Homo sapiens: one gene and its partners. The protein of the gene in region 3 interacts with the protein of the main gene of each other region in a pairwise test. Each region holds a gene or a part of one and is shown on either strand. Other genes may lie near its edges.

The links.
Region 1: the proteins of PRR20D (region 3) and SMAP1 interact in a two-hybrid assay, tested with the Homo sapiens proteins (one large-scale study listed by BioGRID).
Region 2: the proteins of PRR20D (region 3) and TBX3 interact in a two-hybrid assay, tested with the Homo sapiens proteins (one large-scale study listed by BioGRID).
Region 4: the proteins of PRR20D (region 3) and ZNF385C interact in a two-hybrid assay, tested with the Homo sapiens proteins (one large-scale study listed by BioGRID).

The regions. Positions count from the first base shown.
Region 1 is NC_000006.12:70,726,883-70,730,451, reverse strand, and holds part of SMAP1 (stromal membrane-associated protein 1), read right to left. Parts: intron 1-3,569. UniProt on the Homo sapiens protein: GTPase activating protein that acts on ARF6. Plays a role in clathrin-dependent endocytosis. May play a role in erythropoiesis.
Region 2 is NC_000012.12:114,671,897-114,674,175, reverse strand, and holds part of TBX3 (T-box transcription factor TBX3), read left to right. Parts: coding exon 1-11; intron 12-1,873; coding exon 1,874-2,279.
Region 3 is NC_000013.11:57,159,169-57,163,466, reverse strand, and holds the start of PRR20D (proline-rich protein 20D), read right to left. Parts: upstream 2,836-4,298; 5' UTR 2,622-2,835; intron 2,468-2,621; 5' UTR 2,449-2,467; coding exon 2,397-2,448; intron 1,376-2,396; coding exon 762-1,375; 3' UTR 1-761.
Region 4 is NC_000017.11:42,088,405-42,091,973, reverse strand, and holds part of ZNF385C (zinc finger protein 385C), read left to right. Parts: intron 1-3,569.

The DNA of each region.
Region 1 (3,569 bases), on a different chromosome or scaffold from region 3:
ACATTAAGGTAAATAGTTACAGAGCAATAGCTGGAGGGTTTAATTATTTTTAGCAAGTAAGTCTCAAACTAAGAAAGGTTAAACAGATATGCAGTGGGCCAGAAACAGTGGCTCACACCTATAATCCCTGCACTTGGGAAGCCAAGGTGAGAGGATAACTTGAGGCCAGGAGTTTTGAGACCAGCCTGGGTAACATAGTGAAACCACAGTGGTCTCTAATAAAAATTGAAAACTACACACCACACGTAGTGGTGAGTGCCTGCAGGTCTAACTACTTGGGAGGCTGAGGCAGAAGGATAGCTTGAGCCCAGGAGTTCAAAGGTCCTTTGAGCTATGGTGGTACCACCGCACTCTAGTCAGAAAAAAAAGGAGGGTCAGGGGGAGAAGGGAGAGAGAAGGGAAGCAGAAATGCACAGTGAATTCTAGATCAGTGTCTCTCAAACCCTAATGTGCATGCACATCAACTGGAAATATCATGAAAATGAAGACTCTTAATTCTGTGACCCCCAGAGTAGCTCCTAAGGTTCTGCATTCTAACAAGTTCCCAGTGATGCCCATGCTGCCATCCACAGATGACATTTTGAAGAGCAAGGTTCTAGAGCATTCTCCACAATCTTTAACTCAAGCATTCAACACACTTCCTGATTTGCTTTCACATAACTAACGTAATTAAGGGACTGATAAATGTGGCAGCAGTAAGAATGGAAACGAACAAATATGAAATCACCAGGAAGAACTGACAGGGCTTACTCATAGAAAATACAGTGGCAAAGGAGAAGGTAGAGGCCAAAATGCAAGTTCTGCACCTAGGATATAAAGCATGAGGGTCCTCGTGGAGTCAGAAAACTGCAGGAGATCCATTGAATGCTTTAAATGATAGTGATACACCAAGATGAAAATGTCTGGCAGGCGATTTAGAATATAGGACTAAAGTTCAAACTGGATACATACACACATACACACACACACACACACACACACACACACACACAACCTTCTTTTTTTTTTTTTTTGAGACGGAGTCTCGCTCTGTTGCCCAGGCTGGAGTGCAGTGGCGTGATCTCGGCTCACTGCAAGCTCCACCTCCCAGGTTCATGCCATTCTCCTGCCTCAGCCTCCTGAGTAGCTGGGACTACAGGCGCCCGCCACTTCGCCCAGCTAATTTTTTGTATTTTTAGTAGAGACGGGGTTTCACCATGTTAGCCAGGATGGTCTTGATCTCCTGACCTCGTGATCCGCCCGCCTCGGCCTCCCAAAGTGCTGGGATTACAGGCATGAGCCATCACGCCCAGCCTCACACCTTCTTTTAAGATGAGAGTTGCAGTATCAAGAACAAAAAGAGCAAAAAAGCACAGTACTAAATCTTAGGGAGAAAATGAAAGGCAGTAAAAGTAGAGAATGAGGTCGTTTCAAAGAAAAGCTGTTTTCAAAAACAGGGAAAAAAAAAAGATGTTCAATAGTATCAAATATTCCAAAGAAGTCAAGAGTAATTGGGCTAAGAAAGAACATCTGGATGTGGTAACTGAGGCTGAAAAGTATTAGGTAACCTCAGAGATTAGGCAGAGCAAAAGGGAGGGAGCTCATCCACTCTGAATTCATTATCAGAAGAAGAGGGAGAAAGATAATTCACCCAATCTGAATTCCATTACCAGTTTACACTCTCGCACCATTTCAGTTTCCAACTCCAAACCTTTAACAGTTTCCTGTTTTCCTCTATATTAGATTATAGGAAATATTTATCTCCTGTAAATGTCTACACTCATAACAGCATGTGACACAGAATGTGCCACAATAGGCATCTACTCTTTTTTCATTTGTAATTAGTTCTGTCTCCTAAAGTAGATGGTAAAGTTCTCACTAGGAAGGCTCTTATATAACCTTCTGTATCACCTACAGTAAGGGAATCGACTGTATAATTTTAAAAATCTGCTAGATCTGATGACTCAGTCAAATACTCAAATGTTTTGATTCCTGAACAACTGATCTACTATTTTTAAAAATGGAAATAAATCTGAAAATTATGGCAAAAATCACTATCTTTAATATCAATTTTCCCATTCTTCCTTTAAGTAATAAAGGCTTCTGAATTTTACCTAGAAATGTGGCTGTCCTGATAGGAAGACTACATTTCTCAGCCTCTCCTGTAGAATGTAAACAGAAATGATATATTTTGCCATTAACCACACTGGGCCTGTGTTCCCCTGGCCTCTTCCCCTTTTCCATTTGCTAGGAGACAATAAGGAATGAACCTGCAACCTTGGATCCAATTACAAAAGCCCCATGGTGAAGATGACAGAACTACTCTACCCATACTGGACAGTTCATGTCCAGACCAATGTGAAGGAGAAATAAACTTCTACCCTGTTTAAGCCACTTTTTTTTTTCTTTGAGACAGGGTCTCACTCTATTGCCCAGGCTGGAGTGCAGTGGTGAAGATCTTGGCTCACTGAAATCTCTGCCTCCCAGGCTCAAGTGATCCTCCCACCTCAGCCTCACAAGTAGCTAGAACTACAGGCACATACCACCACGCCCAGCTAATTTTTGTATTTTTTGTAGAGACAGGGTTTCACCATGGTGTCCAGGCTGGTCTCAAACTTCTGGGCTCAAGCATTCCACTTGCCTCAGCCTCTCAAACTGCTGGGATTACAGGTATGAGCCACACTGCACACGGTCAGTGTGAATTACATTTGAATGTTGGTAACAGCAAACAGAACACACAATAGATTTAGCAATCCCTGATTTTAGAGCCCAAATTCTAAGACGGGTTAAAGAATAATAAAAGACTTTTTCATCAAACCTGAGTTTTCTAGATCCAATTTAAATCACCAGTTATCTATTATGTGTTTATTTTGACCGAAGTATTAAACGAAGATGACAAAACACAAATCCTGCCTTCAAGGAGCTTGAACTCTAATAATCATATAATGGTTATAGTAATAAGTACAAATGACACAGGAACATAGAAGAGGTAAAAATTAATGTCAGCCAACAATATTAATGGAGGCTTTGTAGAGACAGTGGCATTTGATGTGATTATTATGTGGGTTGGGCGCAGTGGCTCACGCCTGTAATCCCAGCACTTTGGGAGACTTAGGTGGGCAGATAACTTAAGGCCAGGAATTCAAGACCAGCCTGGCCAACATGGCCAAACTCCATCTCTACTAAAAACACAAAAATTAGCTGGGCGTGTTGGTACGTGCCTGTAGTCCCAGCTACTCAGGAGGCTGAGGTGTGAGAATCGCTTGAACCCTGGAAGGCAGAGGTTGCAGTGAGCCGAGACCCTGCCAATTCACTCCAGCCTGGGTGACAGAGGGAGACGCTGTCTTTAAAAAAAAACAAAAAACAAAAAAAGACCTCAAGTTACACAGCAGGTAAAGTCTGGACAGGGTAAAGAACAAGGTACATTCTTGGTAAAATGAACAGTGCCCCCCCCATCTTGAAGAGTTTCAGCTATACTGTAATATATAGCCAAAAAATATAACATTGCAGTACCTGATGACTGCTAAGCTTTTTATTTAAATGCTAATTTAAATTTCTACACACACACACACACACACACACACACACAC
Region 2 (2,279 bases), on a different chromosome or scaffold from region 3:
TGGCCTCTCAGGTATGGATCCTTCTTCCTGCCTCCACCAGTCTTTCCACCTTTCGTCCAGTTTCCCTGTCCTTTGCCAGCAGACCCTCACCCGATCCCTTTGGCCTAGTAGCTGTAATAATTTTTACTGAGCCATTACCGGGTTCAAGGCTTAGCTCATGGAGTTATTATGACTTCATTCTCCCCATTCACCCCAAAAATCTTTAAAATTTTTCCGAAGTTAAAGGCTGTTTCCAGCAGAGTAGATAGGTAGTAACAAAGATAACAGCTGGACACAGCACTTACTTTCAGGCATTCTTCTAAGTGCTTGCTCTGTATTGACTCATTTGACCTAACCCTTCAGGGGTACTATTATCACCTCCACTTTACAGATGAAGGCGAAGACGCCCAGAGATGTTGAGTGACTTGTCCAAGGTCACACAGCGGGTACATGGTGGAGCTGAGACTCAACCCCAGGCTATCTGACTCCAGGGCCTCTTTGAGGGTTTCTGATTTTAGCTTCAGAGCTGACATGTCTCTTAAGTGTCTCATAGCCAACCCTTCCCCAGGAATGGGACTCTAGGCCTGGGGAGGGGAAGTGACTACTTCCTGAGTAGGAGTTCAGTCTTGATTCCTCCAGCCTTTCCTCCCAGTTCGAAGCTCTTCTCCCCACCCCCAACCCCAAGCAGGCCAGCCTATTCCTCGAAGGGTTAATGGTTTGTGCACACGTGGGAAATGTCAGAGGACAGGGATAAGCAGGGACTGGGGCAGGCCTGGAGGCCTGTGTGTGGCTCAGACAGCTGTGCTGGGGGGAGGTCTCAGGCGGCTGGAAACACCCTGAACTCGATGAAAAGGTTCTATGAGGTTTTGCATGCTGTTGCCTTTTGTTTTGTCTGAGCACATTCGTCTGGTCTCCCTTCCCTGCGCCAAGAAACCAGATTGGCCTCCCCACTCCAGGGAGGAGGGAGCTGAGGAAAGGCTTGGCTTCTGGCATTTCTCAATTCCTCCCATCTCCTCTGCTGGCTTCTCCGGGAGACCCTGTCCTAGGTGGGCAGGTGGTTGGTACACCAAGGACTACCTGAACAGACAAAACCTTAAGGGCACCTCAAGGCATGATGCAGAGAACTGGCCCAGGCCAGGGTGCCTGCATCTTAAATGCTGCTTCTGCCAATTCCCAGCTTAGTGCACTCCTGAACTCCTGCGGCCTACCTCGGCTTCTCACCTGGAACACCAGTGAATCATGCTGGACGATTTCTTTGTCTCTGTTTATAACAAATGCCCTTTTTCCCTCCCCCAGCCCCAGTTTCCTTTTGCTTAAGATCTTCACTGTCTGTTTTTTTTGTTTTGTTTTGTTTTGTTTGGAGAAACTTCTAGGATTGGGGTGGGAGGATGGGGGTTGGGGAAGAAGAAAGATTTAAAAAATTATTCCTACTAATTTATGTCCTCCGGCTTCCCCTTGGTTACCTCTGTGGGGTAAACTGAATCTGTATCCCCATTTAACAGGTGCAAGGAGATTTCCTGGGGGCTGCACACACTGTGTGCAGCATATTGCAGGCTTTCACTCATTTAATATCTACAAAGTCCTCAATAAGTATATGAATTACTTATGATTTCCCTGTTTTTTCTTCCTATAAGGAAGCTGAGGCACAAGTTAATCAAAGTCTCTTGGCCTAGGGTGACACAGCTAAGATTTGTACCTAGAGATTTCTGAGTGTTGACTTCTCTCCTGCCCCCACCTATCTCCCCCCCCAAAAAAAAAAACACAACAACAACAACAACAGAACATACCAGGGATTCATGGCTTGCCCAATGTTGGAGGGGGAGAAGAGAGGAGAGGGATGAGATAAGCTCCTCCCACCCGGCTGACTCGCTGTGTGTCTCTTTTCTCACCCCAGGGCCTGGCCATGTCCCCTTTCGGAAGCCTGTTCCCTTACCCCTACACGTACATGGCCGCAGCGGCGGCCGCCTCCTCTGCGGCAGCCTCCAGCTCGGTGCACCGCCACCCCTTCCTCAATCTGAACACCATGCGCCCGCGGCTGCGCTACAGCCCCTACTCCATCCCGGTGCCGGTCCCGGACGGCAGCAGTCTGCTCACCACCGCCCTGCCCTCCATGGCGGCGGCCGCGGGGCCCCTGGACGGCAAAGTCGCCGCCCTGGCCGCCAGCCCGGCCTCGGTGGCAGTGGACTCGGGCTCTGAACTCAACAGCCGCTCCTCCACGCTCTCCTCCAGCTCCATGTCCTTGTCGCCCAAACTCTGCGCGGAGAAAGAGGCGGCCACCAGCGAACTGCAGAGCATCCAGC
Region 3 (4,298 bases):
GTGAAACATTCAAAATATTCCCATTAAAGCCAGGAGGAAGCCAAGGACACTGCCGTCAAATTACTGATTCCTGGTTTAGCGGTTCCAGTGAGTCATGCACTCTCCTTGCTTCCGTTAACCGCCCCCCCCCCCACCCCAACACCTTTTGTCTGATTCGTCACATGTCCTTTGATCCCCTTTTTCCTCAATCTGTTTGAAATTTTACCTTCTATTCCAATTCATTTAGTGGTTCCCAAAGGGTACCCACGTTGAGACTTAAAAATGTGTCAGTCTAGATTTTTATTGCTCTTATATTCAGCCAGTCTATCGTCTCCAGGCACTAGAGAAGCACTTTAGTAACTTCTAGCTCCTTCTGAGTTTTCGCATGTCCCACATGTCTATATGAGTGTCTTCTGGAATTTTAATTCTAGGTCATCAATCCTTTTTCCAGAATCGTACTTCTCTGGACTTAAGAATACAGTTTCCTAATTTCCATGCTTAGTGATCCTTGTTGCATCCCACTTCTTCCAGGTTGTCTGGGTTGGCTTCTTCTTGGCTGAAAAACGTGACGTGTACTTTCACTGTACATGACAGTTCCATTCCAATCGCCTTGTACAGAAAGGGTGTTTGGCAGCTTGCATGTTGTAAGTTGCGTACTCCAAGTTCAGGGGAAGCTCAGGCTTCAGGTCCAGTCGGGGGAGGAGTGGAGCAGAAGTGGGGCTGGGGGGAACGTCCAGGTGGAAGGAAGGGAGGCTGGGAACAACGTGGGTGGCAGATAGTGGTCAATACGCAATGTCGGTGAGGAACACTGGGACCCCTTGCACGTAGGTGCCCTGGGGGGTTTGAATGACTTGTAAAACCGCTGAGTCACCCAGAGCCCTAAACCCGATGCAGGGATAGAGGGTCAAGACGGGTTGCCAGTCAACAGCCTGAGGCCCAGGAGCAGCGGGCGGCTCCTGAAACCCCAGCTCAGGTTGCGCCACGTCGGGGCCAGGGCCTTCCTGCACAGTTCCAGGCGGAGGACCTGTTTCAGAAAGGGAGAAGGCTGCGGTCTCCGTGATTTCCGGTTCCCCCTGGTGGCCTGGCTCTCCATGGTGGTCCAGTTGGATGTGCACGTCCGGTGCCATCAAGCCTTCTGCCCCCTGTCTCTGGCCAGCGTCCCCGCGGGGCCCAGCCCTTCTGCCACGGCCTCGCCCTGGCCGCCGGCTTCCTCCCCGGCGCCGGCCTCTCTCTGCAGGAGGGGGTGACTCTGGGCGAGCTGGGGGCTGCCGTCTGAAGGGTTTCACGTAAGCGATGGGTTTTGCGGGTTGGGCTGGCTGTGCGGGCCCATCTGCTTCCACGGAGCCTTCAGGGTCCGCAACACAGCAGCCTGGCTCTGGAGGAGGCCCACCTGAGGCTAAAAGAGAAGCGGAGCGTGAGCAGAGAGAGACAGAAGGAACTTCACCCGTCAAGCAGTTATAGGATACTTTTACAAATAAATACTCAGAGAAAAGAGGGATTTCTGAAGTTAAAATTGTGAGAGAAGAAACAAAACTCTCCACGGAAGTTGGAGAAAGAAGTTGAGAAGGTCTCCCACAGAACAAAGCAAAAACCTAAAATGATGGAAAGAAGGATGAAATATAAGAGAATTAGAGGTATGCTGTGGCTGAGACATTTCACCAGAAAATTTCAGAGTGCTGAGGAAAAAGAGAAGATTCTAACAGATTCTAGAGAGCGGGAGACAGAGAAAGGAAAAGTCACATGGAAAGGGCTAGGATTCCACATGTCTCAAAAGTCAGACATCTCAAAAGCAGCAGTTCAGTCTAGAACATAACAGAAAATGTCTTCGAAATTTCAAGGGAAATGAATTTCCCACCTAAAATTTCCTGTCCAACCGAAGTTTCGCTGAAGAATCTGGGAGGGGAGAATGAAGATGTTTCAGACAAGCAAGATGTTAAAGAATTTCCTTTCAGTGGATGCTTTATTGTTATGCATCTGTCAAACTAGACAAGATTAAAAGATTTAGGACACTCAGCGTATGAAGGGAAAAGTTTTGGAGAACAACGTGGCAACAGCCGGAAAATTCCAACTCCTCCGGGAAAGAACAAGGTGGAAGTACCGGTTTATCATAGATCAAGACGTAGCGTGAGGACTCGCTCTGCTACGGAGAAACAGTAATACAAAACTAAACAGAAGGAAACAGCGACAACAACAGCAAATCTCAGATTTGGGAAATGGGATTACGGTTCGGAAGAGGGAAAGGAATTTCCCAGATGATGTGGAACCCGGGAGCTGACTTCCAACAAGCAGCCCAGGTTGAGGCAGGCTAGGAGAAGGTGAAACAGAGAATGCTTGATTGAGTTTGAGTGTCAACCATTGGGGAAGAATTGGGGAACAGACGAAATTAAAAAGAGAGGAGTGGCAGGCGTTTGATGTACCTTGATTAGGGGCCATGGAGCGAAGTCGCTTCGAAGGCCTTGGTTCCTCCATGAGCAATCGGCGGGAGGGGCTGGGGAGAAAAACAAGAGAGCAAGAACGGATTTAGGAAGACAGAGGTGACAAGGCAGGGGGATGGCCGTGGCCTTTCTAGGGGAATGAGGATTCTGTCCCCAACTGCACCCACCCGAGATCCGTCCACGCCTCCGGGACCCCCAGACACACACCTGATCTTCCCACAGCTGGCTCCGGAGATCTGAAAATTAGGAGACTCTTCGACGAAGAGAGGCCCGAGGAGTCGGAGGTGTCCACAGGTTCACCGCTGTAGCTCTGAGGTAGTCCACCCGCAGCCAGGGAGTCTGGAGGGAGCACGCAGCAGGTTCTGGCTCCGAGCCCAGCAGAAAGCCGACTGCTGGAGGCCGAGCGCCGTCCCTCTTATATGGCAGCAAGGCAGTCGCGTAAGGGACAGGCGTCGTCAGAGGGGGGCCGGCTGGGGCGGGCCTGGCTGGGCTTGCGAGGCGCATTGGGCCAGTCCCCTGCCAGTCAAATGGGGGCCCTTCTGAGATGCCGCCATTTCTAGACGTCCGTGGTTGATTGATTAATCTAATCATCGAGGAAAAAAAATTGCATAATGACCTCTGAGTGTCAGCACAATGAGGTGTGGTGCCCTGAAAGCGGCTGACAGGAAGATGCGATTAGCTTAGATCTGAGCATGGTCAAGGAAAGCATCCAAAGCGGGGATATCTGGGCTGAAATCTGGAACATAACGTTTGAAATTAGTCATCCTGAACCGGGTTGGGAGAGGCAGGGAGGGAGGAAGGGGAGTGAAGAGAGTGTGCTGAGGCCCGGACTGGAAGGGAGCCCGGCACATTCTGGGAATGGACGGGAGGCCAAGTCCAGGCCCGGAGGTGGTGCGAGGTGGAGGCAGGGTCCGCGCAGGAGCTGGTCTTGTTCCAAGGCAGCGGAAAACCGTGGAACGGTGTCCGGCAGCGGGTTAACATTTCAGAAACGACCAGCCTGGCTGTGAAGGAGCGCCAACCCAGGGTCCGCAGAATAAGTCAGGAGAGGCAAGAAGGCTATTGCAGCCCTCGGGGTTGGGCGCAGGGTGCTGTTAGACTGAGACTCAGGGAGGTAGAGGAGGAGAAAGTTCCCTGGTGGGAGAGAAATTTCCAAGAGAAAGCGAGACCCAGTGTGGACAGCCCTTGAGGAAGAGACTGCGGCCTTGGTAGCCCGCCGGTTCATTCAGGCAGAGGTGGACCGAGAACCTGCTCTGAACGGGAAGTTGCGGAGCTTGGCTTGCGCACATCTGGTTGAAGGGGCTTTTGAACTGCCAAGTGAGGATGTCAAGTGGCCTTTTGTAAAAAGAGTCGAGCTCAGCGCGATGGCGACGGGGCTGGAGATGCGTGTGAGACCCACACCGCTGGCTTTTATTGCTGTGGGTGCACTCACGGGTGGAGGAAGACAGCGGGAAACACAGCAGGACGCTGGAGGGGATCCCACAGTGGGTTATTTGGTTGGTTTGCATCCTTGTGTCTTTTACAGAGACGGGTTCTCGCTCTGTAGCCCAGGCTGGAGTGCAGCGGTGCCATCTCGGCTCGCTGCGGCTACTTGGGGGGGGGGGGGGGGGGGGGGGGGGGCTGAGATAGGAGAATCAGTTCAAGTGATTCTCCTGTCTCGGCCTCCGGAGTAGCTGGACTACAGGTGAGCGCCACCACATCGGGATAATTTTCGGATTTTTTTGGAGAGACGAGGTTTCGCTATGTGCCCAGGCTTGTTTGGAAGGCCTGAGCTCAAGCCGTCCGTCCCGCTCAACCTCCCGAGTCGCTGGGACCCCAGGCGCAAGCCACCATGCCGGGCCAATTATTTTTTTGGGTTGTATTTCCTGTTGAAGTGAGGTTTTGCTA
Region 4 (3,569 bases), on a different chromosome or scaffold from region 3:
GCTCCTTTGATTAAAAGAGTCACAGGCTGCAGTCACCCCTGGCTCTTCCTGAATCTCCCCCTCACCCAAAGCTCCTCTACCTTCACACACCAAGACTCCTGGTCCCTGAGTCTCTGGCTGGGAGGTGAATATAGGGGCAGGTAGCATTCTTGTGACCTTATTCTGAAATTTGCTGTCCTAGTTAGCAGCTTCCTGAGGGGAGAGGGACACAAGAAGCTTTTAGAGATGGTTTCAACCCTCTGGGTGCTAATTGGGAATGAGACTCTCCCTAGGTTGAGACTGGGGACAGCTATTCTGGGTCTGCAAGATGAGGTGTGGGGGTGGAGAGGCCAGAGGGGGGATCAGGAAGTTTCCCCAAATAGCCTGGCCTGAAGCCACACGTGGGAGCCAAGCCCCAAGAAGGTGGCCTAGATGAAGGGGTGGAGGGGGAGCTGTCCATTTGGCACATGGGCCTGACCCTTGGGAAGCTGGGCATAGGGCAAAAATCAGGAGCAGGACTGGTTTTGTATCCTCTTTTCTTTTTTGTTTGAGATGAAGTCTCGCTCTGCCACCCAGGCTGGAGTACAGTGGTGCGATAACAGCTCACCGCAGCCTCCGCCTCCCAGGCCCAAGCAATCCTCCCACCCCAGCCCTCAGTCCAGAGCCTCACGAATAGCTGGGACTACAGGCACACACCTGGATAATTTTGTTACATTTTCTGTAGAGACAGGGGTCTCCCTCTGTTGCCCAGATTGGTTTCAAACTCCTGGGCTCAAGCGATCCTCCTGCCTCAGCCTCCCAAAGTGCTAGGATTACAGGCTCATGCCTGTAATGCCACCATGCGCAGCCAGTCTTCTCTTTGTTCTCCCACTGAAATGGGCTTCCTTGGAACTTGATGTCATAAGTGGGTGTGTCTCTACCCTGTCCCAGCCCCTACCCCCAAGCCCCAGCCTACTGTCCTAGCTCTCATCCCAGTGACACTGATTTACTCATTCATTTAACCAATATTTATGGAGCACCTACTATGTGTTATACTTGCTAGCCTCTGCCCTGGGAATTCAGGAGGAACAAGACAGGGTTCCAAGAGGGAACAAGATAGGTTCTCTTTTTTTTGAGACGGAGTCTCGCTCTGTCGCCCAGGCTGGAGTGCAGTGGCAGGATCTCGGCTCACTGCAAGCTCCGCCTTCCGGGTTCACGCCATTCTCCTGCCTCAGCCTCCCGAGTAGCTGGGACTACAGGTGCCCACCACTGTGCCCAGCTAATTTTTTGTATTTTTAGTAGAGATGGGGTTTCACCATGGTCTCGATCTCCTGACCTCGTGATCCGCCCGCCTCTGCTTCCCAAAGTGCTGGGATTACAGGCGTGAGCCACCGTGCCCAGCCTAAGATAGGTTCTCAAGAGGGAATAAGAGGCTGGGTGTGGTGGCTCACGTCTGTAATCCCAGCACTTTGGGAGACCAAGGTGGGTGGATCACTTGGGGTCAGGAGTTCGAGACCAGCCTGGCCAACATGGTGAAAACCCATCACTAATTAAAAATACAAAAATTAGTGCGTGATGGCGCAAGCCTGTAATCCCAGCTACTCGGGAGGCTGAAGCAGGAGAATCGCTTGAACCTGGGAGGTGGAGGTTGCAGTGAGCCGAGATCGCGCAATTGCACTCCAGCCTGGGCGACAGAACGAGACTCCATCTCAAAAAAAAAAAAAAAAAAAAAAAAAAAGGGAATAAGAGGAAATGGGAAGGAAGGAAAACTACCCTAGAGAGAGCAATGCAGGAAGGCGTCTTTCAGAGGTGATAGTTAAATATCAGCCATGAGAAGGAGGAGGGAGGGGTCAGAAGGAAAAGAGCACTCAAGGCAGAGAGAACAGGCTTTGAGAAAGCTCCCAAGTGAGGGGAAACTCGCTGTGCTCCAGGGACAGAAAGAGCCCAGTGTGGCTGGAAGGTGGGGAGTTATAGGAAACAGATCAGAGGGACACAGGATATTTTAACCACTACGGATATTTTGACCCGAAGGATGTTTTGAATGCAAACATTTTAAACCAAAACATACTAACCCTGAAAATGTTTTAAGAAGGTGTTCTCCAGCTTGAACTCTATTCATCCAACTTAATTCTTTGATCAGATTTTTGTTTTTCCCCTGTAGTACAGTTAAACAAATGTCCATGTTTTTCATTCTTTTGTAATTTTACTGAAACTGTTTTCATCGGCATCGATTCCGTACACATTCTGCTGCTGAGATTGGAGGCATCCATCAGTGTGGGGGCTGCAGGCTCTTGACACGAGTTTCTGCCATTGTGTGATTGACTGGGTAACCCCATTCCATTTTGGAAGATTTAAATTAAAACCAAAAAAAAAGATTCGTGGTCAAGATTTGATTCTTTTGTGCATTTTAGTCAATAATGAGTTTTCTTATATCCATTTCTAGCCATCCTCAGTGTTACTTCTACCCGTAATATTTTTAGGTGGAGAGTTGTATTTATATCTCAGTTGATCTGTGGGAGGAATCAGGTGGAAGGGGTGGACTGGGAGAGAAGGGCTTGGGGGAGGGGAAAGGCCCGGATCTTCCAGGCTGGGGCAAGCATTCTCCTAAAGCAAAGGGTGAAGCCTTTAGAGCTTTTATCCCAGAGCATGACTTGATCAGATTTGCCTTTATTTTTATTTATTTATTTATTTATTTATTTAGAGACAGGGTCTTATTCTGTCCCCTAGGCTGGAGTGTGGTGGTGTGATCACGGCTCACTGCAGCCTCGACCTCCCAGGTTCAAGCTATCCTCCCACCTCAGCCTCCTGAGTAGCTGGGACTATAGGTGTGCACCACCACACCCAGCTAATTTTTGTATTTTTTGTAGAGATGGAGTTGCCCAGGCTGGAGAGTTGCCCTTTTAATAGTCTCCCTCTGGCTGTGTGAAGATGGGACTGGGAGGGAGAGGAAGTGGGGAAGTAGAGGCAGGGAGACCAGTGAGGTGGCTGTTCTGCCAATCCAGGTGGTAAAGAGAAGTGAACCGGGCCAGGCATGGTGATGCGTGTGCCTGTAGTCCCAGTGTGTTGAGAGGCCAAGGCGGGAGGATCGCTTGAGGCCAGGAGGTCGAGGGTGCAGTGAGCTGTGATCGCACCACTGCACTCCAGCCTGGGTGACGGGTTACAGATAGAGTATGGGGTAAAAAAGGGCAGGGTAATCTCTGTCCCACTCCCCAGGATCCCACCGCAGCCCTCCTGCAACATGCAGAATGCCCTTGCTGCCATTCCCACACCCTTAGCTCCCTGCTTCTGGTATTTGAGGCAGCTTGGAGCTCTTCCCCCCAACACCCAGGCTCTGGCCACTTGGAGTTTGTACAGAGTCGAGACCAAGAACTGGGGCGTTTCCCTTGGAGGTTTCTCCTTCTTTGCACTGAGGGAGAGTCAGGGATGCCCTGCTGAGGTTGGGGTGGGGGATGGAAGGGATGGGAATGGCCCTGGGATCCACCTACCTCGAGTCCCGTGGCTGGAGCCGCCCAGGCGGCCGCAGACCTGGCGGTGAAACAGACCCAGACACAGGGCGCTTGTCCGGCGGTGCTCCGCCCTCTGGGTGTGACACTGGGCAGGGAGACAAAGGG